Linked DNA regions of Homo sapiens. The protein of the gene in region 3 interacts with the protein of the main gene of each other region in a pairwise test. Each region holds a gene or a part of one and is shown on either strand. Other genes may lie near its edges.

Evidence for each region.
Region 1: the proteins of PMP22 (region 3) and EDA interact in binary tests that used the Homo sapiens proteins (3 or more experiments, as listed by UniProt).
Region 2: the proteins of PMP22 (region 3) and CLDN18 interact in binary tests that used the Homo sapiens proteins (3 or more experiments, as listed by UniProt).
Region 4: the proteins of PMP22 (region 3) and MS4A7 interact in binary tests that used the Homo sapiens proteins (3 or more experiments, as listed by UniProt).

The regions. Positions count from the first base shown.
Region 1 is NC_000023.11:70,025,044-70,032,248, forward strand, and holds part of EDA (ectodysplasin-A), read left to right. Parts: intron 1-2,813; coding exon 2,814-2,993; intron 2,994-4,460; coding exon 4,461-4,495; intron 4,496-5,425; coding exon 5,426-5,477; intron 5,478-7,205. UniProt on the Homo sapiens protein: Cytokine which is involved in epithelial-mesenchymal signaling during morphogenesis of ectodermal organs. Functions as a ligand activating the DEATH-domain containing receptors EDAR and EDA2R. May also play a role in cell adhesion.
Region 2 is NC_000003.12:138,005,045-138,013,178, forward strand, and holds the start of CLDN18 (claudin-18), read left to right. Parts: upstream 1-5,120; 5' UTR 5,121-5,181; coding exon 5,182-5,401; intron 5,402-8,134. UniProt on the Homo sapiens protein: Involved in alveolar fluid homeostasis via regulation of alveolar epithelial tight junction composition and therefore ion transport and solute permeability, potentially via downstream regulation of the actin cytoskeleton organization and beta-2-adrenergic signaling.
Region 3 is NC_000017.11:15,255,122-15,262,326, reverse strand, and holds part of PMP22 (peripheral myelin protein 22), read left to right. Parts: intron 1-1,191; exon of another isoform or gene 1,192-1,368; intron 1,369-1,506; exon of another isoform or gene 1,507-1,565; 5' UTR 1,566-1,599; coding exon 1,600-1,677; intron 1,678-3,133; coding exon 3,134-3,233; intron 3,234-7,205. UniProt on the Homo sapiens protein: Might be involved in growth regulation, and in myelinization in the peripheral nervous system.
Region 4 is NC_000011.10:60,373,556-60,381,736, forward strand, and holds the start of MS4A7 (membrane-spanning 4-domains subfamily A member 7), read left to right. Parts: upstream 1-4,976; 5' UTR 4,977-5,109; intron 5,110-8,181. UniProt on the Homo sapiens protein: May be involved in signal transduction as a component of a multimeric receptor complex.

The DNA.
Region 1 (7,205 bases), on a different chromosome or scaffold from region 3:
TAAGTATGCAAGTGTGAGAAGCTCACTTGCCTAACCCTTGTTGCAGAGAAGCAGAGGACCAGCTGCAGAACTGGAACAAAGCAGGAGTTTTTTTTTTTCTCAAATGCCTTCTAACATTTTCATAAGTGAACATTCTCTGTTTTCACTGCAACCATTAGTCTCTTGGACTGGAGGAGTTTCTGGCTCTAATTCTTCCAAAATTACATTAGCAATTACAGGAGACTCACATTCTTGAAGGTGAAGTTTGTGCTACCCACAGAACACCCTCTAGCTTGAAAATCACTGTTAGGCTTGGAAATCTTGGAACACAGGACAGCCTAATATGCACCAACTTCTGTGTCTGTGCCACCTAGAAAATAAGGAGGGAGAAGCAAACCTTACAACCAGGCTAAGAAAGCTTCCTGACTGCAAGGGGTAAGCCACCCCTCCTTATAGAAACTCAGTCTCATGAGGAAACAGAGAAATCATTGAGGCCAAGCTCCTTGTTTCACAGATGTAGAAACTAAGGCTCAAGGAGAGGAAGGGATTTGCCCAAAGTGTGTCTGTGGCAGAGCTGGGGCTTACATCCTTATCTCCTGAGTACAGATTTTGTGTTCTTTCCACTACACTAGCTGGAATTGAAACTTGGGCTCTGAATAAGCCTGATTTGGAAGCTGCCCAAATCTGAAAGGAGATGGTTTTCCTGTTCAGCATCTTGAAATTGGCTAGATCTAGAAACGGGGCAGATCCAATCTTTTGCTGCTAAGTGCAGAGAAACCTCTAAAGCTCATGCCTCTAGGTCTTTAAGGCTACAGGGACTCTTCTGGGAGAGATGTTCTCTGGACCTTCCTTTCCTTCCTTTCTGAGGAAGAGACCCCACGATGACCCCATGGTTTCATTCCAAATGCAGATGTGGTTAGACATAGACAAATGGCCTCTTGAGTGGCATTGCCATGAGGATTGGGTTTCTTGGCCATGAGGCATTGTTCTTAAGGGAGGACCTGATAAATCAGGACAAGATTCTCCTGCCTAAGTGTCTGGGGAGCAAGAAGTCAGAGTCAGTAAGAAGGTTTTTAGTGAGACTAGAGAAGGTTGTATTTAAAACTAAGAAACTACCTCAGGTGAAGACATTGTGATGAAGTCTGGAAACAGGCTTCCATTCCTGAAACTTTCCATAAAATTGTGAGAAGGTGGTGAAGGAAGGAAGAAGACCTGTGCCTACATGTAGTCTTTGAGTGGAGCTGCACAGAGCAGAGGAAGTCAACAGGAAGAGCTGGAGGTTTTGGTTCAAGACCACAGTTATGACTCATTTAAGATAACTACATCCTGGTGGGAATGTTGAAAGGACTGGAATATGAAATAGGAGGGTCGAGATTGTTCTAGAAGGATAGCAAGGAGGAAAGGGGGAAGAGTTGGTGGGCATGATTAATAATACATTTGAGAATGGGACTTCTGAGGAAAGACTTTGGGAAGCTGGATTATTTAGCCTATAGAAATAGGGGTTGGTGGGTAACTTAATTTCTTTTCATATATAAGGATTATTATGTATATGTATATTCTTCTCTGTCTACACAAATAGAATAAGAGCTTAAACTGCCACAAGAGGGACATCATTTAATATACCAGAGAACTTCCTAACAGTGAGCAGTGAGGGGCAATAAACATTGGAACATGTTACTATGGAGTTTGCAGAATTTCCTTTCCCAGAGATCTTTTAAAATAGAGTTTACAGAGGTCAGCTGAGAGAGTGAAACTTGCTGCCTCCTCCTCAGCTCCCTCTACTCTCTGTCTCTGCTTCTTTCCTGTTTCTCAATATCTCTCTCTCTCCCTCCTCCTCTTTCCGTGCCCCTCTTCCTCCTTCTCCATTCCCCCATCTCCAAAACTCCTTCCCATTCCTCATTCCCGACTAGCACTGTCCCCATCCCAACCCCCATTTCCTGTACATCCTGACTCCTGGAGGAACCTTCCTGGAGCTGATACTGTTCCTAAGGCCAGGCTGTACGGCTTCCTCTTGTTATCGACATCAAGTCCACCAAACTGGGCAGTAAACATAAAAGCTCCACATTCTTCAACAATAGCCCTTTCTAAAAAGAACCACAAAGTGACCCATAGGTCTAATCACTTGGTAGAGAAATTCTCATCCTTTGGACTCAGCTGAAATGTAACCTCCTTTTTGAAACCTTCTCTGACCTCTTCAGCATTTGGTCCCTACCCACTAAGGTAGCACTTCTACTATCCCATGACTGTGTCTGTTTCCCCACAGACACAGACTGATCTCCTGGAGGGCCACTTATTTCTATATGCTCAAACCTAGCTTTGTAAATGCATATTCACAAAAGGGAGTGGGGGGAGGGGAGAGAAAGCATAAGACAGACGGAGACAGGGAGACAGAGATGTGTGATAAAGGTATCCAACTCTTTAGCAGGGCCTCCCAGAGAGCTGACTTTGTGTCCTCAGAAGTCTGTAGAACTCCTGACAGTACACTCATCACAGGAAATAACTACAAATGTAACACTGAGGCCAGGCGCGGTGGCTCACGCCTGTAATCCCAGCATTTTGGGAGGCTGAGGCAGGCAGATCACCCGAAGTCAGGAGTTTGAGACCAACCTGGCCGACATGGTGAAACCCCGTCTCTACTAAAAATACAAAAATTAGCAGGTCGCGGTGGCACGCGCCTGTAATCCCAGTTACTCCAGAGGCTGAGGCAGGAGAATCGCTTGAACCCGGGAGGTGGAGGTTGCAGTGAGCCGAGATCGTGCCACTGAACTCCAGCCTGGGCAACAGAGCAGGACTCCGTCTCAAAAAAAAAAGTAACACTGAATCCTATTTTTCAGGAAAGAAAGCAGGACCTCCTGGACCCAATGGCCCTCCAGGACCCCCAGGACCTCCAGGACCCCAGGGACCCCCAGGAATTCCAGGGATTCCTGGAATTCCAGGAACAACTGTTATGGGACCACCTGGTCCTCCAGGTCCTCCTGGTCCTCAAGGACCCCCTGGCCTCCAGGGACCTTCTGGTGAGTTCCCCTGTCTCTCCACCCCACCAGGTGCCTTTAAAGTACTTTAGGAGAGCAGGAGTGGGTGATCCTGAGAGCAGTTTCAAACGGTGGAGATGGGGTTGGTGTGCAATAAGGGATGCAGATCTCCTAGCCCAGTGTAAAACTAGGAATTGGACAAGCCAGTAGGGCCTGGCCTGCTCTAGCTTCTTATATCTACCAAACTGTCAAGGACAGGCCACCTGTTCTTGCCCCATCTCAACCCTTCTGTTACAAGCCCTCCCTGACTCTTGGCCTCCCTGTAGTGGACCAGTAAAACTCATATGAGCCAGAGACAGAGGCCCTGGTGGTTCACAGGAGTTCCAGTGGGGAATAGATGTAATCTTCTGTGATTCCCAGCATCTAGCTCCACATGCTGATGTTTGCATAGAAATAGGCTATGGAGTAGAAAGTTGAGGACTGAACAAAATGACAAGCCCTAGGATAGTTTCATCTTGTGAAGTCTGAAGTGCTTTTCCCATAGCAAGTAGTCACTAATGGTCAAGAAGTTAGAAACTTAAGAGTCACTCAGGCTGTGGATGAAGCAAACCCAGGCACCAAGGCTGTCCTGTCCGGGAACCAAGTGCTTCTTGCACTAGATCCTTACCCTACCACACTTGCCATTCAAATGTCATTTCATCCCTTTGCATCTTTCTCCTTAAGCCCTGAAGGGCATCCGAAAGGTATGAATGCAGATCCAAACCTGCCTAATTGGAGTTGACAAGAGTCAGACTGCCTGGGCTAATGTCAGTTGTTATTTCTTTCTCCTGCTCCTCACTCCCCTGCCCTGTATCTTGGGGCTTTAAAGAAATGGACCCTTACAGCTGATTTCTCCAGGGGCAAGAATTCTGCAGCAGGATTCAGATTCTTTAACTTGTACTTCACACAGGGCTCAGCAGTGTTACCATGGCCACAAGAGATGGAGTTAGAGATTTTTTTTCAACCAATCATTCCTTAAATATTGAGCACTTTCTGTATACAAAGAGATATATTGATACATGGTCCCTTTTCTTATAGAGTTTATCTCCTAGAGGAAGAGAGAACAAAGAAACAAGATATTTACAAATAGCAGTGGGCTCTATGAAGAAAATTAATAGAAAGGGAGCAAAACACTAGAGAAGCCAATGCCATTGCCTCAGGGTCACACAGTGATGGGAATGCTCTCTCATTGTTCTCCATGGGTGCCCGGTGGGGCTTGCCTTGGGCTAATATTGGCCAGAGGCAATACTCAGAAGTTTCCCTGCTGGGTGCTGGGCCCACTGAAGATGAAGGTCAGGGCAGGAAACAGAAGGGGTGCACTCTGACTCTTCCTCCAGCTCTGAGCCCTGGAGAATAAAGCTCAGACAGGGCTGGCTGCAGGGAGCATGGCTCACCACCACTAGCTGCTCAGGTGAGGGGAAAAGGAAGTCAAAAGATTATGCCCTCTGATTGTCCTATCCTATTTTGCAGGTGCTGCTGATAAAGCTGGAACTCGAGAAAACCAGGTTGGCTGGGGATTGCTCTCTTCCTGGGTAGGAGGGAAAGCCACAGGCTAGAGCCACCTTTAAATTAGCTTCTTATTAGATTTCCTGAGGCTTTATTTCATGAGAACACCCCGGAGATTCTGACGGTTTTCACTCACAGCCCCCTCCCATCTCTATGAATAGAAAAGCTTTGCCCCAGGGCATGTTTTTAGCTAAGGAAAGGGTGTCTTGCCAGGATCATTTTTCCTCATTCCACAGGAGACCCCAGGTTCACCATAGCCAGGCCCAGTAGTCAGCTGAAATAAGCTGCCAGTCAGACCTATTCACCTGAGCCTCCAACTCCCCAACCACCCCAGACACCTTGCCGGCTCTCAGACCACCTGGGATCCGGAGCTGAAGAGTTGAAGAGTATGTCCTTGAAAAACAGCCAACCAGCTCCAGGCCCAGCCTAGCCTGGGCGTCTGCCTTAATGGCCTGAAGAGCTCCTCCCAGTCTTTGAGCTTCCTAATCTGTCTCTATTGGCAGGTTCTACTGCCTTGCCTTGTCTCATCTCAGCCTCCCTTGCTACAGCTGTGTGGCCACAGTGATAAATCTACACAGCTGCACAGTGCTTGACGGCTTGCAGGGCAATTTTATATCCATCACCTCATTTGATCTTCAGACATCCCTGTGAGAGAGGCCAGACATTCTTATAATCCCCATTTTACAGTTAGGGAAATGAGGCTCAGAGGCATTACATTTGGTTGAGGTCACATAGCTAGGAAGCGGTAGAGCTACAAAATCATATTACCCTCTAGTAGAAATGTAGTCAGTAACATCCCAAGACAGGGGAGAGGGATCAGAATTGGATTACAATAGAAGACTAGAAACCAGGATGGAAACATGGGACTGGTGGCTGAGCAAGCAGCCATTACTCATAGTGACTACTCTCTATCCTTCTCATCCTGCCAGCCAGCTGTGGTGCATCTACAGGGCCAAGGGTCAGCAATTCAAGTCAAGAATGGTAAGAATCAAAATAGGCTCTCTCCCAAAGAGGAGCTTCTCCCCTGCCTCCTCCCCAGCCTCCAAATAATCACCCAGCCTAGTTCCTCCCAGGCCGCTGAGGTACCGTTGGCATACGAAGTCATTCTTTGCTCCATCATGCCCTCTACTGGCTGTCCTGAGCAATTGCTGGCATCAAGACCAGTTGCTACACCCAAATTGCTTTAGAATCACTGATGACGGAGCTGAAAGGGACTTGAGACATCATCTAGCCCAGGCATTCTCAGGGGATGGAGGTTATATCAGAGCCACCATGGAGATATGTGTAGTTAGATTAATATTTTCACAATACAAATTATAGAAAGTAAAACTATGTAAAATTAAATTTTTCTTGTCTGATCTACACAGGTGGGCAGACAGGCTGCATCTCTCAGGGAAGGTGGGGCATGTTAGAATCTCCAGGGAATTTAAGATGCTAGTGTCTATCAAAAAGGAGAACATGTTTAATGGGGTTAAGAAACACTGATTTGTTGTAATCCCTGCATTTAAAAGATGGGGAAACAGAGTCCCAGAGAGATTGGATAATACCATAATAAATCATGCTGTCTCATATTTGTACGATACTTTAGAGTTCTCAGCATACTTTCTTTGTCTTTAATTTCATTCAGTCCTCACAACCACCCTATGAGGTAGGTATGAGCTCCTTTTTACAAGACAGAAAGTGAAGTTCAGAGAGATTAATTAAGTTTCCCAATATTTCTTAGTCAAGTTAGTTTAGGAGCCAGGATTCAAAACTACATCTTTCTGACTCTTTCCTCTCCCCTGTGCTACTTCAGTGATATGTATGTACACTCCACTGAATGATTAGGTTCATTTTCTTCCCCCAAAGAAACATGAACATTCATGAAAGAACAGCACTTTGGAATAATGTCCAGTCCCCAGAGTGCACAAAGCCTAAAATGCGTGAACCCCCAGGAGCCTTGGGAAGCAGCAAGCTAGCCAAGATGCCAGATGCTTACAGAGCTTGGGGTGGAAGGGAGGGGTTGTGAGTACAGAAACGGTAAAGGAAGGTTAAAAAAAACAGCTACATGGGGACAGTTTCTAAGAACTCAGTCAGTCCTGAACTGGCTGTGCTGAGTTTCCTTAATGACTGTATTTAGCTACTTCCCTGACTGCCACCTCCATGTCTGACTTAGTAGCCTCAGAAGTGTAAATAGGAACACAATGGCACCAAAACCCAATTGGTCCTGCTGGGGACCCCAAGGCCCTGAGTGGGCCATGATCCCCACCTGTCCAGGGAGGCCAGAGACAGGCCAAAATAGATTTGTTTGGATATCTAGATGGATAGTGTTTATTCTGTGCTAGCAGCCACTGATTTTGCTCCCACTGCCACATAATAAGATTGTTTCCAGCCCCTCTGGGCCAATCCTCAGAGGTGGTCTGTGCTGACCTTTAGTACTACCAGAAGAAGTGATGGGGGTGGGGTGCAGTGACTCACACCTGTAATCCCAGCACTTTGGGAGGCCGAGGCTGGCGGATCACATGAGGCCAAAAGTTTGAGACCAGCCTGGCCAACATGGTGAAACCCCGTCTCCACAAAAAATACAAAAATTAGCTGGGCATAGTGGCACACACCTGTAATCCCAGCTGCTCGGGAGGCTGAGGCAGGAGAATCACTTGAACCCGGGAGGTGGAGGTTGCAGTGAGCCAAGATCACACCACTGCACTCCAGCCTTGGTGACAGAGTGAG
Region 2 (8,134 bases), on a different chromosome or scaffold from region 3:
TTAGTAATTACAGCAATGTATTAAAATCCTTAATAAATACATAGCTCAGATAAACTGATAGAAAAAGTGCTAAAATTCTAGTAAATCAATGAGGAAGGAATACAAACTGACAATTCAAGAAAAGAACAAAAATCAAATGCTTCATACAAACTTGTTGGGTTTTTTGTTTTTTTTCTTTTCTATTTTTGATGATGAATATTTTTTATTATTATTATACTTTAAGTTCTGGGATACATGTGCAGAACGTGCAGGTTTGTTACATAGGTATACATGTGCCATAGTGGTTTGCTGCACCCATTAACCATCTACATTAGGTATTTCTCCTAATGCTATCCCTCCCCGTGCCACCCACCCCCCTAACAGGCCCAGGTGTGTGATGTTCCCCTCCCTGTGCCCATATGTTCTCATTGTTCAACTCCCACTTACGAGTGAGAACATGAGGTGTTTGGTTTTCTGCTCCTGTGTTAGTTTGCTGAGAATGGTTGTTTCTAGCTTCATCCATGTCCCTGCAAAGGACATGAACTCATATTCGTTTTTTTCAAAAAGGCTCAAACTCAGTAATTAAAGAGATGCAAGTTAAAACAAGTAATCATATACATATATAACTTACCAAATTCACAATGTAGACTAGGATGTAAAGAGATAAGAACTTTCAAACACTGCTGTTAGGATAAAATTCATAGAAAGCAATATGGTTGTGTATAAAAAAAGATTTTTTAAAACTTCACAGTTTTTGACAACTTAATTTCACTCCTAGGAATCTATCCTAAAAGAGTCATCAGAAATGCTGACAAAGAGTTATATGTAAGATGTTCATCATAACATTGCCTTTTATTCAAAAAAATGGGGGAAGGTACAATCTAACTATATAAAAATAAGTGAATAATAGCACTTCTATATAATGAAATACTAACACACTCATATTAAATGATGTTTACAAGAGCTTTGGTGAAACTAATACAATTAAGTGAAAAGAGCAAAACATCAAACTATATTATCCTTTAATTATGTAAAAAAATACATACAGATAATTGATAAGAAGGAAGTATGCCAAATATTTTGTCTAGGGCTTAAAATTGTGAGCAATTTGTTCAAATTCTCTCCAAATTTTCTATTATGAACACCAAAAGGTGAAATTAAAAATTAGGGATATATGTGGTAATATTTTTGAAGAAAAAATTAATAGATGTGTCAATTATTTTTCTCACTAGTATATTCATTTTATTTCTTCCTAATTCCTAGCTATAATATTTTCTATTGTTATTTATGCCACCATTTTTGCCTAATTACCATAGACAGTGTTATAAAAAGTGGTGGAAATGTTTTCTCCAATGGCAGTAAAATAATATAAGCTCTTGGAAACTTACAACCTGAAATGACACTGCCAGGGCCGTATTTAAACCTGAATGCAGGGATGATTTCCCCTAGGAAGTCAGCAAAAATTCAGCTCCATTTTAAAGGTGATTAAACAAAGTTTACCAACCCCATTATTGTTAAACAGAATCAGACCTGGACTTATCTGGTAGAGATACATTGATATGTTTCAATAAAGCCTATTGCCATAAATGAGAAAGTCATATTTTCCTCTGCAGACCCCCATTCATTTTTTGGCAGATACGGCTAAAATAGTAGTCTGCTCAGAGCCCAGAAAACTTACCAGGAAGTGAAAAATCCTATCTTCCAGGTGTTTTAAAACACATCAGTATTTATTTCACACAGAAGAAGTGTGTAGATTTACAATTTCACTCCTCTCATTCAGTATTCTGCCTAGGTAGAGATAGTCTTAGTTTATCCTTTAAAATTAACTTTTTCTATTTTCAAAAAAGTGTCACTGTCACCATTTCAGCCAAGAAAGAAAATTTAATTCCTTATTATCTGAATAACATTTTTCCCTATTTTGAAACTCTGCATGAAAACATTTGCATAGGGAAACTGGGGGGGGAATTGCCATAGATGAAAAATAGATAACTTTAATCAACAATTTTTTTATTTTTCCATCTTCAATCTATGTTTTTGGTGGTATTCTAACACATGTATATGTATTGTCGGGGGAAGGTTAGACAAATGTCATAAATTGAACATCTGAAAATCAAACCAATAGAGCTTTTTAAGAATAAAAGGATACAATTTGACCTAGCAATCCCATTACTGGGTATATACCCAAAGGAATATAAACCATTCTACTATAAAAGCACATGCACACATATGTTTATTGCAGCACGATTTATAATAGCAGAGATGTGGAACCAACCCAAATGCCCATCAATGATAGACTGGATAAAATGTGGTACATATACACCATAGAATACTATGCAGCCATAAAAAGGAATGAGATCATATCCTTTGCAGGAACATGGATGAAGCTAGAAGCCATCATCCTCAGCAAACTAACACAGAAACAGAAAACTATACACCACATGTTCTCACTCATAAGTGGGAGCTGAACAATGAGAACACATGGACACAGGGAGGGGAACAACATATACTGGGGCCTGTCGGGGGTCGGGGGGGTGAGGGGAGGGAACCTAGATGATGGGTCAATAGGTGCAGCAAACCACCATGGCACATGTATACCTATGTAACAAACCTGCACGTTCTGCACATGTATCCTAGAACTTAAAGTAAAATAAATTTTTTAAATGAAATAAATTTTTAAAATGAGGATTAAAAAGCCTGCCTGTTGGTTGAAATAAAAGTAAGATAGACTCTGTCTATGGAAACAGTGGTAGAATCATTCCTGAATTATTCCAACAACAGTTTTCAACCTAATTGGTCAATCTATGCCCACCAGCAGAAACCAGTGTCACTTCTAACTGTTCCCTTCCCTCCTTTTAGAATTGGCCTTGTAACAACTCAAGGGACACACTGCCATCAACATTCCTTCACTGTAGATCATGTAACTGTTGCTTACCCTCTTATTTTAGGCTTTCTGGCTCATGCTTCACTAGAAACACTGATCACAGAACCTAAAGTAAGGTGTGCAGTGAAGGGGAGTGTTGCCTCCATTCAAATTAGAGGTAGTTCTTCCCTATTTGCTTTCTGTGTTTGCTGGGAATAATGCAGTGGGAGCAGAGGCTGGGTGCACCCAAGATAACAAAATGTCCAGACACAGAGGCTCGTTTCCTGGAGAACCTGTAAAGACCTATAAAGGTTAAAGATTGGAGTATGTATGTGGGGGGGGAGTGTGGGGGTGTGTGGGGGTGTGTGTGGGTGTGTGTGTATGTTTCAGGGCCTTGAGGTCCAGATTTTGGAGAGTGTCATTAAAATGTCTCCGGAGGGCTGGGCACAGTGGCTCACGCCTGCAATCCTGGCACTTTGGGAGGCCGAGGCAGGCAGATCATTTGAGGTCAGGAGTTCGAGGCCAGCCTGACCAACATGGTGAAACCCCATCTCTACTAAAATACAAAAATTAGCTGGGTGTGGTGGCAGGCGCCTGTAATCTCAGCTAGTCAGGAGGCTGAGGCAGGAGAATCGCTTGAACCCAGGAGGTGGAGGTTGCAGTGAGCCAAGATTGCGCCACTGCACTCCAGCCTGGGCGACAGAGTGAGACTCCCTCTCAAAATAAATAAATAAATAAATAAAAACAAAATATATCTGGAAGCCAGGCACAGTGAGTCACGCCTGTAATCCCAGCACTTTGGGAAGCCAAGATAAGCAGATCACTTGAGCTCAGGAATTCGAGCCCAGCGTAAGCAACATGGTGAAACCCTGTCTCTACTAAAAACATAAAAATTAGCCGGGTGTGGTGGTATGCATGTATAGTTCCAAATACTCTGGAGGCTGAGGCATGAGAATTGCTTGAACCCAGGAGGCAGAATTTGCAGTGACCCCGATGACAACACTGCACTCCAGTCTGGGCAACAGAGCAAGACTCCATCTCAAAAAATTTTTAAAAAGTCTCTGGATTCAGAGGCCAGACATACCTGGCCCCCATATCCGTCAACCAATTCTCTAGCAAAATTTAGTTGTATAGACAAAACATAACACCTGATGTCTTCAGCCAAGTCTCTCTACTGTGATTATACAATTCCTAATATTTTGACCAATTCTAGTGAAAACTTTTCTGCAAAATGTAGAAGATAGTGTATGAGATCTGAAAAGGCTCTGGAGTGTTCTAGTTTAGATCTCACATGTTGTGGATGAAGAACCTGTGACCTACAAGGGCTTAGGAGTTTGCCCCCAACCTGCCCAGCACACGACAAGTTAGGGGCAGCATCAGGAGCAGATCCTAAGCCTCTCCGTGACCAGGCCAAGGACTTCAGCCCAGCTAACCCTGGTCCCTCCTCTGGCCTTTGTGGGACCTCCTGTGTCAGCCACAGAGTCCTCATGTGGTTCTTGTGGCACGAGTGAAAGCATGACATGGAAATCAACGGGGTCCCTGGCTTCCTCTCATCCCAGTTCCAATGCTTATGGACCAAGAGCATAGATCTAGGATTTGGCTTCGTGTTCTCAAAAGTGGGGACAATTTTGCCTGCCCCTGCTGCTCCATATGGAAACAGAGAAAGAGCGCTGGACTGGAAGCTGAGGTGGGAGCCCCACCCCTGCCGTTTTTAGAGTATCTGTGGTTCCAGGCACTGGGACAAGTCCCTTAACTTATCTGTACTTTTCTTGACTCACCCCCAAAAAATGGGGATAATAGTGCCTGCCCTACCCATTTCTGTAAGATCAAAATGGAAAGATGTAAGTGAAAAAAGTCGTTCATGAGTTGTGAGGAGAAAATGTGAAAAGTCTGGTTTAAGACAGAGCACGGTGGGTGCTTCCCAGGGGCCATCTTAAGCGAGGTCAGCCAAAGTGGTCTGCAGTCACGTTCCCCGTGGTGGGGACACGTCAGCCTTTTCTCCAGATGGCGGCGCTCTCCGGAGGAGCCGGAGCTGGAGGGAGGCCGGTCTGGCCCGGAGCAGGGAGTCCTTCTGCTCCCTGGCACGGCTCTGCGCTGAACCCACCCGGCCTGCGGAGAGCAGACAAGTGCCTCTTGGGCCCGCTTCTCTAACAAATGTAAAAATAATGCCCTTGAACCAGGAGCGAAACTGAGCTATCTAAGGAAAACACTGTGAGCAAATACTGAGAGCCTAGGGAAACCATCTGATTAGAAGAGCTCCCCTCAGGAGCGCGTTAGCTTCACACCTTCGGCAGCAGGAGGGCGGCAGCTTCTCGCAGGCGGCAGGGCGGGCGGCCAGGATCATGTCCACCACCACATGCCAAGTGGTGGCGTTCCTCCTGTCCATCCTGGGGCTGGCCGGCTGCATCGCGGCCACCGGGATGGACATGTGGAGCACCCAGGACCTGTACGACAACCCCGTCACCTCCGTGTTCCAGTACGAAGGGCTCTGGAGGAGCTGCGTGAGGCAGAGTTCAGGCTTCACCGAATGCAGGCCCTATTTCACCATCCTGGGACTTCCAGGTAGGCACCGTGCACCCCGGGGTAGAGCCAGGTGAACCAGGTGAGCAGGGAAGGGGGCGTTTGCGTTAAGCCCCACTCCCACCTCTGGGTGAGGACCCTGGCAGCTCTGGCTCAGAATGAAAGGTGTGAATAAAAGGAGAAGCTGGCTCGTGTCTAATAGGGCAACAGTCATGCAGGAGAAAATGGGAGGGTTAATACTCAAGGCGAAGGAATCGCTAGTGAGGAGGCAGGCCTCAAGAAGAATGGGTCTATTGTAAGGGTATGTTCATGATACCTGGAATAAACTCGTGTTTCTCAAGGAGAAAATAAATTGTGTGCATTACTTGCATGTGGCTTGCTCCTGCCTGCACATACATGGGAGCAGGGAAGCAGGATGCTGAGTATTTTGTTATATCTGGAAAAGTTTATTGAGAGCTAATTTAATTTTCTTTCCATTTCAATTAAATTTTTCAAAGTTGGAGTCTCTGTGGGTGCCAAAAAGAATATTGCCATTAAATTATAAATATCCTTTTGCTGCATTTGTATTAAGAATATCTTGTATACTGTCCTAAAAATCAATGTATATCAAAATATAATTACAGAATTATAATTATATTATGTCAGAATATAAATATAATTATAAATGTGACATCCTTTCACCCCTAAAGATGAAATAAATTAAACCCCTGCTTTTAATATAGATAATTACTTCAAATATGCATCATAGCAACTTTGCATTCTGAATAATATGGGAGCTCTATTTGTATTTTTAAAATGCAAACAAGAAAATAATAGCTCTAGCTAATTAGTGGCTCTAAGGGGTGGCCAAGATGTGAGTGTGATGGAGAAAGGAGAACAATGTCTCTGAAACAAATACCTTTTATAAACAAGTAGATGGAAATAAATTTGCAAGAAATTGTGAAGAGGCTGTAGAGCCCTTGAAACTGAATTGAATTGTGAAAAGCAATTCAACTAATCCAAGTTCATTTTCAGAAAGAAATAGAAGATGGGTGTCAGAGTAGAAGAATTTGATTATTTATTCCATTTTTTGGAAGCCACTTATTGCAGGACCAACAGGATGACTGACTCCGGGGAAAGACCTGCTTAGGGAAGCAAGGGAGGTAGAACCTGGCCAAAAGAAAGAGAACCAGACTGAGGAGGGATTATGCTGTAGTGGGAGGGGAGAGGTGAGATGCAGGAAATGCCACACAGAGTGTTGAGTTGCTAGTTATGTCTAATTTTAACTATCATATAAAGAAAAAATATTGTCCTCATATTCAAAATTAAGGCATGATGTCTTATGACTTCATGTTCAATAACCTCTCCCCAGGGCCCCACTACATATTATCAATCTCTTGCTCACTGTGTATCACAGTCTCCATACATGGGGCTCCTGAATATTCCCACTCTCCTAAATGGGCAAACCCCATTGCGTCCACTGTGACTTGTCACTCCTATTCTGTCAACGGATCTTATCTCCATGACACCCTCTCAGAATAGCTCCACCTCTCCCCCTTGATGGAACAAGATTATCTTCCCTGCTTTCCTGCTAAGGTCAACCTCTCCTGCTAAGGTCAACCTCCCCAGCAGGGCTCTGAAGGCCTCATGCCACCTGTCTGGGATCATGCCCTGTTGGTCAGCCCCTCTCCTCCTTGCCTCTTTCATCTCTTCTCCTCACTTATGCATATGGCCTCCTTCCTGGGGAAATCTGTTGATCCTGATCATTGTCAAGTTCTGTCTCTCTCCTGGGTCACTGACAAACCAAATTAAAAGACTAAGTTTTTCCACTACCTCTCACCCTTAACCTTTCTCAGTCTGGTTTCTATCCTTCATCTCTATAGAATGTTTGCTTTTTTGACCATAGCAGAGGATGAAGGGGAGTATTTCAGTCACCAACTCCTAGTTCTCAGTTCTCATCTCCTTAGACATTTCAAAACCCAAACAACTTCCACGGTTCCCCATTCCCAGCTTAACTAGGTGCACACATAACAGCCTGACACCAAGCCTTCCTAACCCCTCACCTACCTTCCTTGGCAGTCTCTTACTCCCCCATCCTGTTTCTTCTGTCCTTTCAGTATACCTTGGACTTGGTCCTGGACATCCATTGCTCCTGCTCCCCTGAATTCCCCCCTCCACCACCCCAACTGTCCTCTCACAAATCTTCCTCCAAACCTCCTCAAGCCCCCAAATTGAATAAAGATTCCACAAGTCTCTGTACCAAACCCAGAGCATTCTCATAGCATTGAGCATATTCACCCCGCGTGACACTGCTCTCAAATCTGAGAAGCATTTATTGCATACCTACAAAGAGTACACAACACAAAACTGGCCTTGTCGGCACCGTAAATTCCAGCAGAGGGGACAGGCATGTGTGTGAATATCAAAGCAAAGGCAACACATGTCATGGGGCTTTGACACAAGTGTTTGGAGCCCAGGAAGAAAGTGGTTATTCAGTAGGAAGAGTCAGGAGGGGAGGAAATCAGGACAGTTTTGCTAAGGGAGTTCTGTTTGAGTCTGAACTTTAGCTTACTAACTTGGTTATTTGTACATTTGTGTCATTCAGCTTCTATGTGGTGTTTCCCTTCAGCTGGATAAGAATTATTTCCCCATTTCCCAGAAAAGCGCCTGGTAGAGTGAGTATTTAGCAAAGGATTGATAAACTAAGTTGAATTAAATAGTACGAATAGTTCATTTTAAGTGTTTATGCAAGCCATTGAACTAAAAACAGGTTAAGGTCTTCCCCAAAAAGGACAG
Region 3 (7,205 bases):
CTCCCTGGGGCTTCTGTTTAGGGGCACAGGGTCCCCTGTGTGTCCTGTTTCCCTCCAATGGGTCTTGGAGTAATACAACGAGGAGAGCCTTTATGGTCTATAAGACCTTACAGGGCAAGGGTGATGGTGCTGGTGTCTGGATAGCGGATAAGGGCGGCCCAGTTCTCGCCTTGCTGAAGAGGCGTTGACTCTGGGACACACTGGCAAAACAGTCCCTGTGGCGGACATCCCGAGAGTGTTGGACTCCTGTGGTTCCCCAGTTCCCAGCCTCCTGCCATCGGCTTAATTCAAACCCTCTGGGAGTCATCAGAAATCCTTGTTTATTTCTTCCAGTGCATTCCAGAGTTTCTTTGAATGTGATGCTTGTGGAGAGGAACAGAGGGGCCTGGGATTGGGTACTTTCCAAACTGGGTTATTGAAACGTTGTCTCCCTGGCCCAAGACTCTGCCTAAAATGGTCCCCAGAGTCTCAGCCAGATCTTTCACAGCCATGCATGTCCTCTAACAGGTCATCCCAGCCTTCAGTTCCCCCAAAGTTTAAAATGAGGGGCGAGGACCGCATTACTTGGGATAAATGTCCTGCCGGCTCTGACCGGCTGAAATTCTCGGACTCAGCCTTTTACCCTCTGTCTCTCTCTCCCGTCCGCTGGACATCTACTCCCTTCGGTCCAGGCTCCTGGGCTCCTGTCCCACCGCACCCAGACCGGAGCTCAGGCTTGTTGGGGTTCGTGTCCTGGCTTTGAGTGCCTGGGGTGCAGACTGGACCCCTAGGCGAGCACGTGGGTCTAGCGCAAGAGCAGAATGCCCCCTGACCCCAGGGGCTGCCTGGGGAAGCGCGCGGTGGACGGGAAGCGCAGGGTCCGGGCAACCCTCTCGAGCCATTCTTTTCTTTCCACACTACTCTGGCTCTGCACCACCTCTCCGGAGCCGCCAGAGTCTGCGCGAGGCTGAGCTGGGGCCAGGACCGTTCCTCTACGCTGGCAGAGTTGGGTGGAAACTTGGAGACAAACGGAATGCGGAGAGCACTGGGGTCTGGGAAACCAGCCTCCTCGCCGCTGTCTCCCCCACCGCATGCCACGGCTGTCTCCAGGTCTCAGACGGAAATCTGGGCACCTACTCCCCTCACCCCTACCTCCACCCCATAGGGGAATTCACCATCTGAACCGGGGTCTCGGAGAACGTGACCTCTCACCTTCCAGGGAGGTCGCCGGGAGGTGCTTGGGGTGGGTGGAAGCGTGCAGTGGCCTCTGCTCATATTTTCTGGAAACCCCTCCGTTCCCTGGGTGGTTTTAGACGTGCGAACCGCTTGTTTTGTTTCCAAAAGCAAAAGATGTTCCGTTGCAGGCGGGCCCGGCTGGGCGCTGGGCACTGGGCGCTGGTCCTGCAGGCGGCTGCTGCCCCCTCTCGGCGGCAGGCGGCGCGAAGGCTCCTGACCCGCGCGGGCGGTCGGGCTGCGGGCGCTGGGCCAGGCCGGGCCTTCCGCTAGTGCGCGGGACCCTCCCTCTGCGCGCGCCTCCGTCGCTCGGCCCAGTGCGTTCGGCCTCACGCCCAGCGCTCTCCTCGCAGGCAGAAACTCCGCTGAGCAGAACTTGCCGCCAGAATGCTCCTCCTGTTGCTGAGTATCATCGTCCTCCACGTCGCGGTGCTGGTGCTGCTGTTCGTCTCCACGATCGTCAGCGTGAGTGCCTGGCGGGGAGGCTCCCTGCGCGGCCCGCCCTTCCCCATCTGGGTTCCCAGCCCGTGCTCCTGCTGGTTCAGGACTGTGTTATTTGCAGACAGTTGGAAGTCTCAGACGTCCCAGGGAAGTTTCTGGCAATCTGCCCCCTTCCAGTTGCTTTGAGAAAACGAGAGCAGATTCAGTGATAGGAACCAAGCGAGCGCTGGGCTGGGTTAGCTGCGCAGGTCTCTATTTAAGCCAAGTAACTTCAGAGCCGATCTAGGGTCCCCGACCTTCATTTGACAAGATTGTTTAACTTTTTTTTTTCTTGATGCAGCCTCGTTGAAGAAGAGGAGTATTTATGATTTTTTTTTCTCCAAACCATAGTCAGATGGGTGAATTAATTTATAAAACACCCTTTTAGGACTTGAAATTGGAAAGTTAAAATGGGCTTTTCTGGAAAAGAGTTCACAGGTCCCATGTCGGCTTTATGGCATGAACACAACACATTGTTAGTAAAGCTTCCACTGGTAGGAACAGGCCATCAGAGTAACTTCTGTTACAAAACTGTCCAGCCCATTAGATCTTAAAGTTATTTTCTTGGCGATGAAGATGAGCAGACATTCAGGCAGTTTTCCAGTGGTGGCTTTCACTTCTTAATTTAAGGCACATTGTAAGCATGATTTTCTTTTTCGTTTTCTTTTCTTTTCTTTTCTTTTTTTTTTTTTTTTTGAGATGGAGTCTCCAGCCTGTCACCCGGGCTGGAGTGCAGTGCCATGATCTTGGCTTACTGCAACCTCTGCCTTCCGGGTTCAAGCCATTCTCCTGCCTCAGCCTGGGATTACAGGTGCCCGCCACCACGCCTGGCTAATTTTTTTTTTTTTTGTATTTTTAGTAGAGACGGGGTTTCACTATGTTGGCCAGGCTTGTCTCAAACTCCTGACCTCATGATCCGCCCACCTCTGCCTCCCAAAGTGCTGGGATTACAGGTGTGAGCCACCGTGCCCGGCCTGTAAGCATGATTTTCTAGTCTCTGTGAGAAATAATTATGTTGGGGATTTGTGACTTAGTTTAACATTTACAAGCATCTTCACAGTATCTCCATTGTGCCTGGTGATGATGATATCAGACTGATAGGAGCTATAAACAAGGAAATAGACTGAGAGAGGCGGGCTTGGGGAATGATCCCGAGATGCTGGGAGGAGAGAAGGCTTGAATGCAGGTGTCTAAGGTTGAGTTCATGGCTCCTTCTACTATAGTAAACATCTCTGCACATAATCGTTTCTGTGTGCATGTGGAACTTCTCCATTTACAAGGTGCTTTTAAGTCATAAAACGTTGGCTCTTACCATGCAGGGGTGGGCGGTGTGGCTAGGTGGATGCGGGTGCTTTTCGCCATCCCTGGGCCTTTCTCCTTCCCCTTTTCCTTCACTCCTCCCTCCCTCCCTGACTCAGGATATCTATCTGATTCTCTCTAGCAATGGATCGTGGGCAATGGACACGCAACTGATCTCTGGCAGAACTGTAGCACCTCTTCCTCAGGAAATGTCCACCACTGTTTCTCATCATCACCAAACGGTGAGGCTGGTTTTGTGCTCCATGAGCTTGTCCTCAGACGCCTGTAACACGTTTCTCAGCCCAGAGCTGGAAACGCTTATTGGAAGACACAAGCCAGAATGTCGTTGCTGGGGTGGGGTGGGATGTGACAGGGAGCCATGAGTCCAGGGAAAATGGGAGGGGTGGTGATCTCGCTGGGGAAGCTGAGATCCTGGGCATCATTGTGATTCACTCTACCTAGAGACATGCCCTTAGTGCCCTCCTGATCACTTAGGATAATGCTTTTTGTGATTGAAAAAAATATCGACCTGGGAGCTGTGAAGGTGGTATGATAGCTAAGCCTTTGGCAGACCCCCTTGGGACATTGGATCAAACGTGTATCTTTGGTTTGGTGGCTGTCTCTATTCAGAAATGTCCTGCCCCTTTCTGCTGCAGTGACAGTGGGGCTAGCTCACTGCACCGTCAGTTACATGGACACAAGACTGGCTGCCTTTCCAGGTCTTGGGCCTCAGTGATGCCACCTAGCATCAAAACCTTTGAATGTTTCCTTGTTGCAAGATGGGGACTTGAAGCTATTTGCAAAACCCTAAGCTAAGCCTTGGGGTCCTTAATCCAGAAGATCGTATTTCTCCTCTGTCCTCAGCATCTTTGCTTGTGAGATATGGAAGCCAGGCTTCATGAGGGTCAAATTAAGGGATAATTGGCAGCAGAAGCACCAACTAGGTACCCAAGGCACCCAGAGGGAAAGGAACACCCAGCCAGGAGCCCTGTGTGTTTGGATGCAGACAGGTGGAGGTAAACAGGATGAGCTGTTTTGGTGGCTGGGTAGGCCATAGCGATTGATGTTAAGAGCCCGTGGACCTGGATCCACATGATCTTTTGTTCCAGAAGATGTGTCCTCAGGCTGGAAGGACCTAGAGATACAGCAGAGCTTTCCTAACATCCTGGGTTTAAAAGGCCACGGAAATACAGCTTTAAATGTTGCTGGAGCTACTCATAGATCCAGTATATATGTTCAAGATGCTACACCAGACGAGAGAAACCAGTTTAGATCCAGTTCAGTAAAACAGGCAGTGAAGTGGCCTTTGGTCCTGGCTTTGCATAATCCAGTTGCTTTGCTGGACTTTCCCTCTTACAGCTCAGTACCCAGTAATACCCAAGCATGTCCCCAGCTGAAGCATTATAAACCAAATTCCTTGAACCACAGTACAAATAGAAACTGCTAAAATAATAATTTGGTAATTTACATGGAGAAGATACGCAAGGAGTAGAAAACCCTGCTTTATGTTTTTACCTTCTGGGTTGGGGAGGGAGCAGAGAAAAGGTCCCAGTCCTATTGGAGTGAGAACAGTGCTTAATCTTGTCTCTGAGTGTGTGAAAGGCATTGAATTAAAGCCATCCCAGAAATTACGTGGTGGGTTTGCATGGTGAGTTGGCAACTGAGTAAATGAAATACTCATGAGTGCCTGAGAATGTGACCGTAGCACTGCTTGTCCCCAAAGCCACAGCATCCGGTTTCTCCCCCTTTAGGGTCTGGCTGAAGTTCCCGGAGCACTCCGGATGGGAGTCTCCGTACTCGCTACTGACACCTGGTGGTTACAAGTAGTGACTCAGCCCGAAAAGGGCAGGCTTTGGTGCTCACAGGCGCCATCCCCAAGTGGCATCTGGCCACGCGGCTTGGCACAGAATCCTGGACTCTTGGGCCCGGAAGGGGGCAGTTTTGGCAGGCGTGTTAAAACCCGGCGAAGTTTCAGCAGAAACGAGGCGGCAGAGGAGTTGCTAAGTTGTGCTTAAACCATCTGCAGGAAAGAAAGCAATATTGACCTGTAGCATGTTACAGATTGACATTTGGTGTCTTCTGCCGTTGGAAATAGCTGTCAGTTGGTGCTAGAAGCAGATCTCAAAGAGGCACTAGGGTTATTTTAATCAGGAAACTTCTTATCTCTCAACTTGTTCCTTCTGTGCCAAGCTCATGTTCTTGAGTTCATTTACAATGCCTCCTTAGTGTGGGTTTCAAATCTGCCTCGTTGCTTTCCGTGAGGACCCCAGAGTGTCTGTTTTCCACATCTCCCTTCTCAGCTCTCACAATCAGGGCATTTTGAAAACATCTGGACACTGCACCTGAACATGCTGGGTTTGTTTTCACGCCACTCAGGCTTAATCTAAATTTGAAATTTCCATTTACACTTCCCCAGTAGTGGTTATCTCTGCCGCTATCTTCCCCAACGTGGCAGCACTTGCTACGACTTCAGCCTTAAGTGGCGAATCCTCCAGGGCCTCTTTGATTGAGTTTAACAATTGTGGCTGCAGACAATAAGCTGAAAAAAATGTGTACTTTTTAAAACATTATACTGTCTTTACAAATGAACTATGCTCATTGCGAACCATTTAACTTGTCTGTATTTGCTCTTAGAAAGTATATTTGAAAAAAAATACTTGTTAAGTAATCAAAAGTAATTTGTTATTGACATCGATTTGTGAAGAATATGTTGCAAGTGTGAAAAAATAAATAGTGGTGCAATCTCGGCTGACTACAACCTCCACCTCCTGGGTTCAAGCGATTTTCCTGCCTCAGCCTCCCGAGTAGCTGGGATTATAGGCGCCCAACACCACGCCTGGCTAATTTTTGTATTTTTAGTAGAGAGGGGTTTCATCATGTTGGGCAGGCTGGTCTCGAACTCCTGACCTCAGGAGATCCACCCACCTCACCTCCCAAAGTGCTGGGATTAGAGGTGTGAGCCACTGCGCCATGTGACTTGGTATTTTTTTCTGAAAGGACTCATTTTTCTGGTGCATGACCATGACACTTCACCTCTCTCTGGGGGTTGCCACTCATGTTGTTTTCTACATGAATGGGGCCTCCTGGCATCGTGCCATGAGGCAGTCTAACATCTAGGTTGTGTAGTTTGAAAGAGACACACCAGATCTTGCCCCCAGGCTACATCTTAATATTAGAAATAGTTTTAGATTTTTAACTAACTGACTTTGACTCCGCCTGCCTTCTCGTTTTTCTAAATGTGTTTGTATACTTTCTGGCACCCCCTCCTTATCTGCCTCGTGTGGGCAGAGGTAAGAGAGGCTTAGTGTGGGGATATTCGTTATGATATTGTATCCAGTGCCTCTCCGGCCCAGGGAATACAAGGATCTGGAATGCATGGGCCTTGCCTTGATGGTCCCGAGCCTGGTCGAAGAGTCAGGAGATAGATATGGAAGGGTGAATCACTCCCTTGGAAGGCAGAGCAGGCCAGGTGCCCAAAGGGAGGCAGGCAGACAGCGTCTGAGTTCAGGGAGGAAGCGGATGGGAAATCTCTGGTGGGAGGTAGAATCTGATCCATCCTCCAAAGGATGGGCAGGATTTAAGTCAATACAGGCAACGGGGAGGAGAATATTCCCTGTGACCTAAGGTAAGGGTAGAACAAGGCAGGGGATGGGGTAGACTGGTTGGCTAGTGTTCTGGTTAGGATTAGGATTGATTGTGTATAAGAGAACATCTTCAAATGATAGGGGCTTAAGTAAGATCATTTATTTTTCTCTCTTTTCAAAGAAGTCTGGAAGTAGGTAGCCTGAGAGAGGTATGGAGGTTCCATGAAATTGTCAGAGATGCAGACACTTTCTAGCTCATTTCTTTGCCATCTCTTGGGTTTGGCTGTCATCTTCAGGAAACAAAAGGCTGCTAGAGCTCCAGCCATCTCATCCATGATTCAAGCAGTAGGGTGGAGAAAGGAGGTGGGGAAGAATGAATCTCCTTTTCTTTTAATGAAATGTGACATGGTCACACCTACACCTATTTACAAGAGAGGCTGAGAAATATAGTCATTCGGCCTTGGGGGAAGCATGGCTTTTCAAATCATAGAAACCTGGCAGCAAATACCTCTCTGTAAGCCTGGTGTGGAATACTTTCCTTGAGGGTTTGACCATCCCCTCCCATACCCAATCATACTCTTTTGCAATAGCTCAGTTGGGCCCTATGCAGTTCCATAAGTCCCAGTTATT
Region 4 (8,181 bases), on a different chromosome or scaffold from region 3:
TCAACATATTGATATGGGAGAGGGGCAGGGAAGTGCTAAGTAGAGAAGGGCAGGGTCCCTGGCGAGGTTCCACCCTCGGCCTTTGCCCACAAACCCAGGTGAGGACAGGCACTCCTGTTTTCATGCCAAATGTTGCATTTCCAAGCCAGCCATGCCCCTCCTCCTGTGCCTATAAAAACCCTGATACCCTAGTGGGTATACACACACAAGTGGCTGGATGTCAAGAGGAACACACTGGCAGAAGAACACACCAACAGTTGCTGGCAGACCATCGATGGCAGAACAAAGCAGATACCAAAGGAAATTCAGCTGAGGGTGGTTGGAGGAGAGCCAGGCTGCTGAGCAGCCCTACTCCAGAGAAGACCACCTTCCCACTCCATCCCCGTTCTGGCTCCCTGTCCATCTGTTGATAACTACTATCACCACTCAATAAAACCTTGCACTCACTCTCCAAGCCCACATATGATCTGATTTTTCTGGGACACTTGGGCAAGAACCCTGGGATACAGAAAGCCCTCTGTCCTTGCGATAAGGTAGAGGGTCTAACTGAGCTCATTAAAGCAAGGTGCCTGCGGACGGCTAAGCTGAAAGAGCACATTGTAACATACACCCATTTGGGCTTCGGGAGCTGTAAACACTCAACCCTAGATGCTGCCATGGAGTCGGAGCCCACGCTCCCCATGACCTGCCCGTCTGCATGCTTCCCTTAGGGGTTTGAGCTGCGGGGCACCAAAGAAGTGAGCCACACCCCCATCACGCACCCTGCAAGGGGGATAAGGGAAAACTCCCCTCGTTTCAATATGTTAAAGCTTATTCACCCCATGAGAGCCATTTGGTTGGTAGGCTATTAATTATTGCCTCAATTTCAGAGCCTGTTATTGGTCTATTCAGGGATTCAACTTCTTCCTGGTTTAGTCTTGGGAGGGTGCATGTGTCCAGGAATTTATCCATTTCTTCTAGATTTTCTAGTTTATTTGTGTAGAGGTGTTTATAGTATTTTCTGATGGTAGTTTGTATTTCTGTGGGATTGGTGGTGATATTCCCTTTATCATTTTTTATTGCTTCTATTTGATTCTTCTCTCTTTTCTTCTTTATTAGTCTTGCTAGCAGTCTATCAATTTTGTTGATCTTTTCAGAAAACCAGCTCCTGGATTCATTAATTTTTTGAAGAGTTTTTTGTGTCTCTATCTCCTTCAGTTCTGCTCTGATCTTAGTTATTTCTTGCCTTCTGCTAGCTTTTGAATGTGTTTGCTCTTGCTTCTCTAGTTCTTTTAATTGTGATGTTAGGGTGTCAATTTTAGATCTTTCCTGCTTTCTCTTGTGGGTATTTAGTGCTATAAATTTCCCTCTACACACTGCTTTAAATGTGTCCCAGAGATTCTGGTATGTTGTGTCTTTGTTCTCGTTGGTTTCAAAGAACATCTTTATTTCTGCCTTCATTTCTTTATGTACGCAGTAGTCATTCAGGAGCAGGTTGTTCAGTTTCCATGTAGTTGAGTGGTTTTGAGTCAGTTTCTTAATCCTGAGTAAAATGCTATTCTTAACATCAGTTCTGTTCCATTGGTCTATTCACCTTGTTACTAGGCTTATTACTAGGACTATGTAGTATGCTTCCTCACTGTTCTATTTGAACATTCTAGGAGAATGAAAACACCATAGAGGAAGGTGGTTTTTTCTGTTCTGTCCATTGATGCAATCCAAGCACCTAGAACACAGCCTGGCACAGAAGAAGCACTCAAACTGTGGTATTTCAATGAAAAGTGAGGAATATTTTTCATGTGGAATTTTTTAAAGGAATGTTGTGCCCTACACCTTTTCAGTAAGGAGATTTTCTGTGAAGTACTACGCGAGGCCTGCTGTGTGCATGGCGAGATCAGCAGAGGCAGAGACCAAGAGAGGCAGAAACCTGGCAGAGCTGCTGAGGATGGTGTAGAAAGAGACTCCCCCATGCTTAGTCATCCCATCATGCCCATTGTCATGTGTAGCCTCCAGTTATACAAAGCTAGAGATGCTCAGCCTCATCCCCATTTGAGATAATTGCATTCTTTTGCCCTATTCATCATCACTGAATGGTGAGTCCCAGCAATTCTGATATCAAGAGCACCAGGAAATAACCATTTGTTTGTATTTCACTTGGAAGGTAGGGTCTCACACCAGGTTTGGGGATTTACTGTTCAAGTCCAGATGACCAGTAAAGCAAGTTCCTGGAAGTAATAATATAGCAGTTAAGAGCACAGTCCCAGCCAGGCACAGTGGCTCACGCCTGTAATCCCAGCACTTTGGGAGGCTGAGGCGAGCAGATCACGAGGTCAGGAGTCGAGACCATCCTGGCTAACACAGTGAAACCCCGTCTCTACTAAAAATATAAAAAATTAAACAGGCGTTGTGGCGGGCGCCTGTAGTCCCGGCTACTTGGGAGGCTGAGGCAGGAGGATGGCGTGACCCCGGGAGGCGGAGCTTGCAGTGAGCAGAGATCCCGCCACTGCACCCCAGCCTGAGTAACAGAGCAAGACTCCGTCAAAAAAAAAAAAAAAAAAAACGATCACAGAGCACAGTCCCTGAATTAAGATTACCTGGATTCAAATCTAGACTTCATTACTTTCTAGGGTGTGTGACAGGGTAAGTTACTTAACCTCTCTGTAATTTAGGTTATCAGCCAAAAGACAGAAACCTTCTGTTATTTTAGCAGAGAATACTTGCTAGAAAGAGTCATTACCTGTGTATTAAAGAACTGCAAAGGCATAAAGAAAACACTGAAATAATACAGACATAGAAACTGCATGAATCAGCCACAGCCCAGTCACTACTAACTCCCTAAGCAATCCCTGGCCTTTAGTTTCCCCACCTGTAAAATGCTGAAGTTGGGGGGAAAAATCGTTTCACTTTCATTCCGGTGGCGTGATACGAGATTCTAAGAAACAGGGAGAAAATTCCGTGAGTGGAGCCAATAACCAAGTCAAACATCAGGGGGGTCTATGAACACTGCTCCAAGGAATCTCTCTCTGGATAACCAGACCTTGTGCCCTAGCCCCAGCCCGTCATCTCCACTGCTAGAGAAAAAAAATACAGTTAGTCTGTCCAAGGCTGTTAGAGTCCTCCAACATATAAGACGCATTTCCATTTTACTAGCTTCATGGTCTGCTTGGGGTGGGGATGGCGGGGAGATCGTATCCTTGAAGTAGGCACTAGGACTGTGAGTCACTTGCCTGTCTAGAGCACCAGGACTGTTTGCAAAGGGCTGAGGAGATTTCCATCAATGGAAAAGAGCATGAATTTAGAGTAAACATAGATTACACTTAGAGATCAGAGATCAATCTAGAGATAAAATACACTTTTCTCTAAAGGGGGTGGGAGAAGATGTTGGACAAGAAATACCAGATTTTCTTAATGGTTCATTTATGTCAGGCTCTATGGTGGGGACTTTTATGTTATTTGACTTAATCCTCACAACAATTCTGAAAAATCTTTTTTCAAATTTTATGAGAAAGTGAACTGGATATTTAACTGATTTTCTCACGAATTCCTTCTGAGGCTCAGAAGTGTGAAAGAAGCCCAAATGACCAAGGTTCTTTAACAATTTGGTCAAAACAGGTCATAGACCCAGAGGAAGGTCTGGATCCTGGAAGTTTTCTTAAGCAAAGACAGTGCTTGTTGTGGATATGAAGATGTTGACTAAGCTGGGCACAGTGGCTCACACCTGTAATCCCAGCTTTGGGAGGCCAAGGCAGGTGGATCACCTGAGATCAGGAGTTCGAGACCAGCCTGACCAACATGGTGAAATCCTGTCTCTAGTAAAAATACAAAAATTAGACAGGCATGGTGGTGGGCACCCATAGTCCCAGCTACTGGGGAGGCTGAGGCAGGAGAATCACTTGAACCTGGGAGGTGGAGGTTACAGTGAGCTGAGACTGCACCATTGCACTCCAGCCTGAGCAACAAGAGCAAAAAACTCCATCTCAAAAAAAAAAAAAGATGTTGACCAAATGGCAGACTCTTGCCATGAAGCAAGCCCAGACCTCAGTGCCAAGAGATGTGAATTAGATTCCTGCCTCTTCCACAGACTAGACATGTGACTGGGGGCAGATTCCTTCAGCAATATCACCTCATTTGGAGAAGAACTGGACTAAAATACCCTCCAAGTAGTTTATGAGTTATTTAAATCTCCCAGGCTTAGGTTTGCTCCTCTCTTAGGGGATAGCCTTGCCACCCTTCAGGAAATGGAGACTGTATATGGAGCATGTTGTGCCGCCAGCTGCTGCATGTCCCAGAGCCATCTTAAACCCTACCCTTCTGAACAATGGCTAGTCTACAAGAAGCCTTAAAAGGGATGTGAAAGTGGCAACAGTGTCCCCTCAACAACAAATACTTCCCCAAATATGAGCTTGTGTGGAGCCTGATGACTCTGCCTCTGAGGCCAATCCACTGGCATCTTTCCCAAGATGTGCCTGGACTTCCCTGAGCATGAGGCCAAAGATGGAGAATGGAAACACCCAAAAGAAGTAACAAGGAGACACGGAATTTTCCACAGGTTGCTTTCAGCTTACCAAGAGCCTGGAAAGTGAGAGAATAGATTCTCCAAAATTCAAAACTAACATTACTATTATCAATATTTATTGTCTACTTTTTGTAAACTCTTTGCATCTTTTTTCTTTAATTCTCCCAACACCCACAGAGTGGAATTATTATTATCCATCCACCATTTATTTAATAGACAAGAAAACTCAGGCTAAGCAAAACTAGATGACTTAAATAATTCTATGTAGGAGTAGGGAAAATGAATTTTAACTGGGACCGTACAAATCACTAGTCTGCACAAAGGTCTTTTTCTCATGTGTCACTTCTATCTTGTGTCATTTTGCCAGACCTCAGAATTTAGAAAGAGGAAGCAGAGGCACTTTTTATATATCAACTGTCTGTAACTACAGCAAAATTCACATCCTGTGTAATCATAAATACTGCTCTAAGAAAGGGACAGGAAGTCTCAGAGGCTGGAGAGCAGAGCACCAAGATCGTTCTGGCAGGAACAGCCAGTGGGAGGTTCCAGCTGAGCGCTCCCCAGAGGTGAGCTGATCCCCAGCCACAGCACACAGGACCAGGCTGCGAGAACAGGTAGACACCTTGGTTTAGATCATGACTTTTGGGGAAGATTGTGTGCTTTTGAAAAGACAGCCAGGGAATTGGATTATCATCCTGTCTCTGATTCTGACCACCTGTGTGAGTTGGAGCGTCAGCTCAGTCCCCTTTTTGGGTCTCAGTTTACTCACTTGTCAAATAAGAAAATTGGGTAAAACCATTCTTAGGTTTCCCTCATTGAGGTGATTTTCCTCAATGTTCTGCATTCTCCTGGTGTGTCACTCAGTCTTACAGAGTCTACTCTCAACAAATACTGTGCAATTAGACTGAATCTTGCATTAGAACCCCATGGTCCTACTCTAATTCTGTAATACAGAAAATTGCTGGGCAGAGCTGTTGACCTCCATGTCATGATTTATCTTCAAAGCACGGATTTTAGAGCTGTCTTGAAAGCTGTGGGTCCCTCCAGTCTATCTCCTCAAGGCGAATGTGGAAGGACAAAGCATCCTCTCAGACTGTGGTGTTTGGAGATGATAGCATCAGTCTGGAGACTTTTGTGAAACATAAAGAATCTTGGTTATATAGGATTCCTTCTAAAAGTAGCAACGTGTATCTAAATTCAAGTGTCATAGATTTAAATGTAATAATTCCACTTCCATACATCACTGTGAGATAATTAAATGCAGGAGGTATCACAAAAGTGCAAAGATGTTCATTATTGCATTGTTCATAGTGGCAAAAAGAAAAAATAGAAACCACCTAAATAGTCATGAACATGTGATTGATTAAATGAATCTAGAGACCTCCATTTATTTAAATATACCATTTGGCTTTTTGGTTGTAGTAAAATATGCTTAAAATAATTGTAGCCTTTTAACCATGTGTTTTTTTGTTGTTTTTTGTTTGTTTGTTTGTTTGTTTTTTAATTGAGAAAGAGTTTTGCTCAGTCACCCAGGCTAGAGTGCGTGATCTCGGCTTACTGCAACCACTGTCTTCCAGGTTCAAGCGATTCTCCCATCTCAGCCTCCTGAGTAGCTGGGATTACAGGCACTCACCATCATGCCTGGCTAATTTTTGTATTTTTTTAGTAGAGACGGGGTTTCACCATGTTGGCCACGCTGGTCTTGAATTCCTGACCTCAGGTGATCTGCCCGCCTCGGCCTCCCAAAGTGCTAGGATTACAGGCATGAGCCGCTGCACCCAGCCTTAACCATTTTTAGGTGTACAGTTCAGTGGCATTAAGCACATTCACACCATTGTGCAACCATCACCACCACCCAACTCCAGAACTTTCTTGTCTTCCCAAACTGGAACTCCGTGCCCATTAAACAATAGCTTTCCATTCCCCTCTCCCGCCAGCCCCTGGCAACCACCATTCTACTTTCAGTGAATTTGACTCTTCTAGGTGCCTCACATAAGTAGAATCATACAATATTTGTCCTTTTGTGACTGGATTATTTCACTTGCCATATTGTCTTCAAGGTTCATCCATGTTGTGCCATGTATCAGAATCTATCATTTGCTTTTAAATTTAGGCTTTTTATTATTTCTATTCATCGGTCAAAGATGTCTACAGAATAATGTTGAGTACAAAAAGAACAGTTATAAAATGGCATGGATAGAATGACTATTTCCGTAGAATTGTGAATGTCTGTGAACATATATAAAGAGGAGAGAGATAAAGTGACAGATGGGAAGAGAGAATGTAAAGAATATGTGCATAGGAAACAAGAGTGATCGGGTGGCAGTTGAAAGTTAAGGAGCTAATTTGTTTTCTTCTTCAAACTGTATTCCCTTGTAATGGTGGTACTTTATGCACTCTTTCAAACAGAACAAACAGTTAAGAAATAACAAAGGAAAATAAATGTTCATGGTATCAGATAGGCTATAGCCTGAAAGTATCAATTAAACTTTCGAGTCCTAGCTTCAGGCTGAGAATCAAGCATTTTCTGCAGTCCTTAGGTATGAGATTCGAAAAATAAAGAAAGGAACCCAGAACTCAGGAGGCTGGTGACGAAGACTAGTAGGAAGGAGTCTAGTTGGTATATTTGGGCTATTGAGCCACACAGAGCAAGGTAAAAGCCAAGTTTCTACAACATGAAAGCAAGTTGGGAAAAAGAAATCTTCAACCTATATTCCCTAAGATCAGCAATGTCCCTGGGAGAGGATATGGAACTGATGAGTGGCAGCCAATGCTTCAACAATAGGGGAGGAAGAATAGAGAGGATGAGAATCAGTTGTAGCTAGCCGGGCAAGAACAAACCTACAGGGATATAGAAGAGCTCTGGTGTTAGATGGCCTGTGCCCAAATCTTGCCTCCACTACCTGCTAGATAAGCAATCTTGCACAAGCTATTTCACCTCTCCAAGCCTCATTTTTCTTATCTTCAAAGTTCAGCACCCATCTCTGAGACTGCAGATTAAATGAGACTGTCACAAAGCTCTTAATAGAATGCCACATTCATAGTACGTGCCCAATCAATGTTAGCAATGATTATCATTTTATCATGAACTACTGTTTGATTCTGGAACCTAGAATTTCTCTAAGCCTGACACTTTTTCTCCTTCTCTGGCTTTAAAGATGTGCTGGAAGGCTCACCCTGACTCCACTGCAGGGATTCAGCTTCAACATTATTCCCCTCATAGGACATGTAACCTCACCCACACTTCTACCCAGATTTCAAAATTCCAAGAAATGAAAACTATCTCCTTAAACAAAGAGAACTTTAGGTTTAATAATTCTTCAGATAAAGTATCTCATGCCCGGAGAGCATGAGAAACTAGACTAAGGCACAGATCTAGGAGTAGAAATAAAATGGAGGTCCAAACATGGATCGACTATTATGGAACACCTGATAAAACTCAGAGAGTTACAACAAAAGACACTCACGTGTGTCATTCAAATCCTCACAAGAGTCCTTCAGGATAGTGTCATTATCCTTATTTTACAGATAAGGAAACTGGGGATGAATGAGGGAAAGTATCCTGCCTACGGCCAGCTCATCAATATCAGAACTGGGCTTCCAATGAATATTAGATAAAACTGATATGTTTTGGGAGTTTATCACATGCCTCCCCCTATGCTGAGTCCATTATATGTGTCATCTTA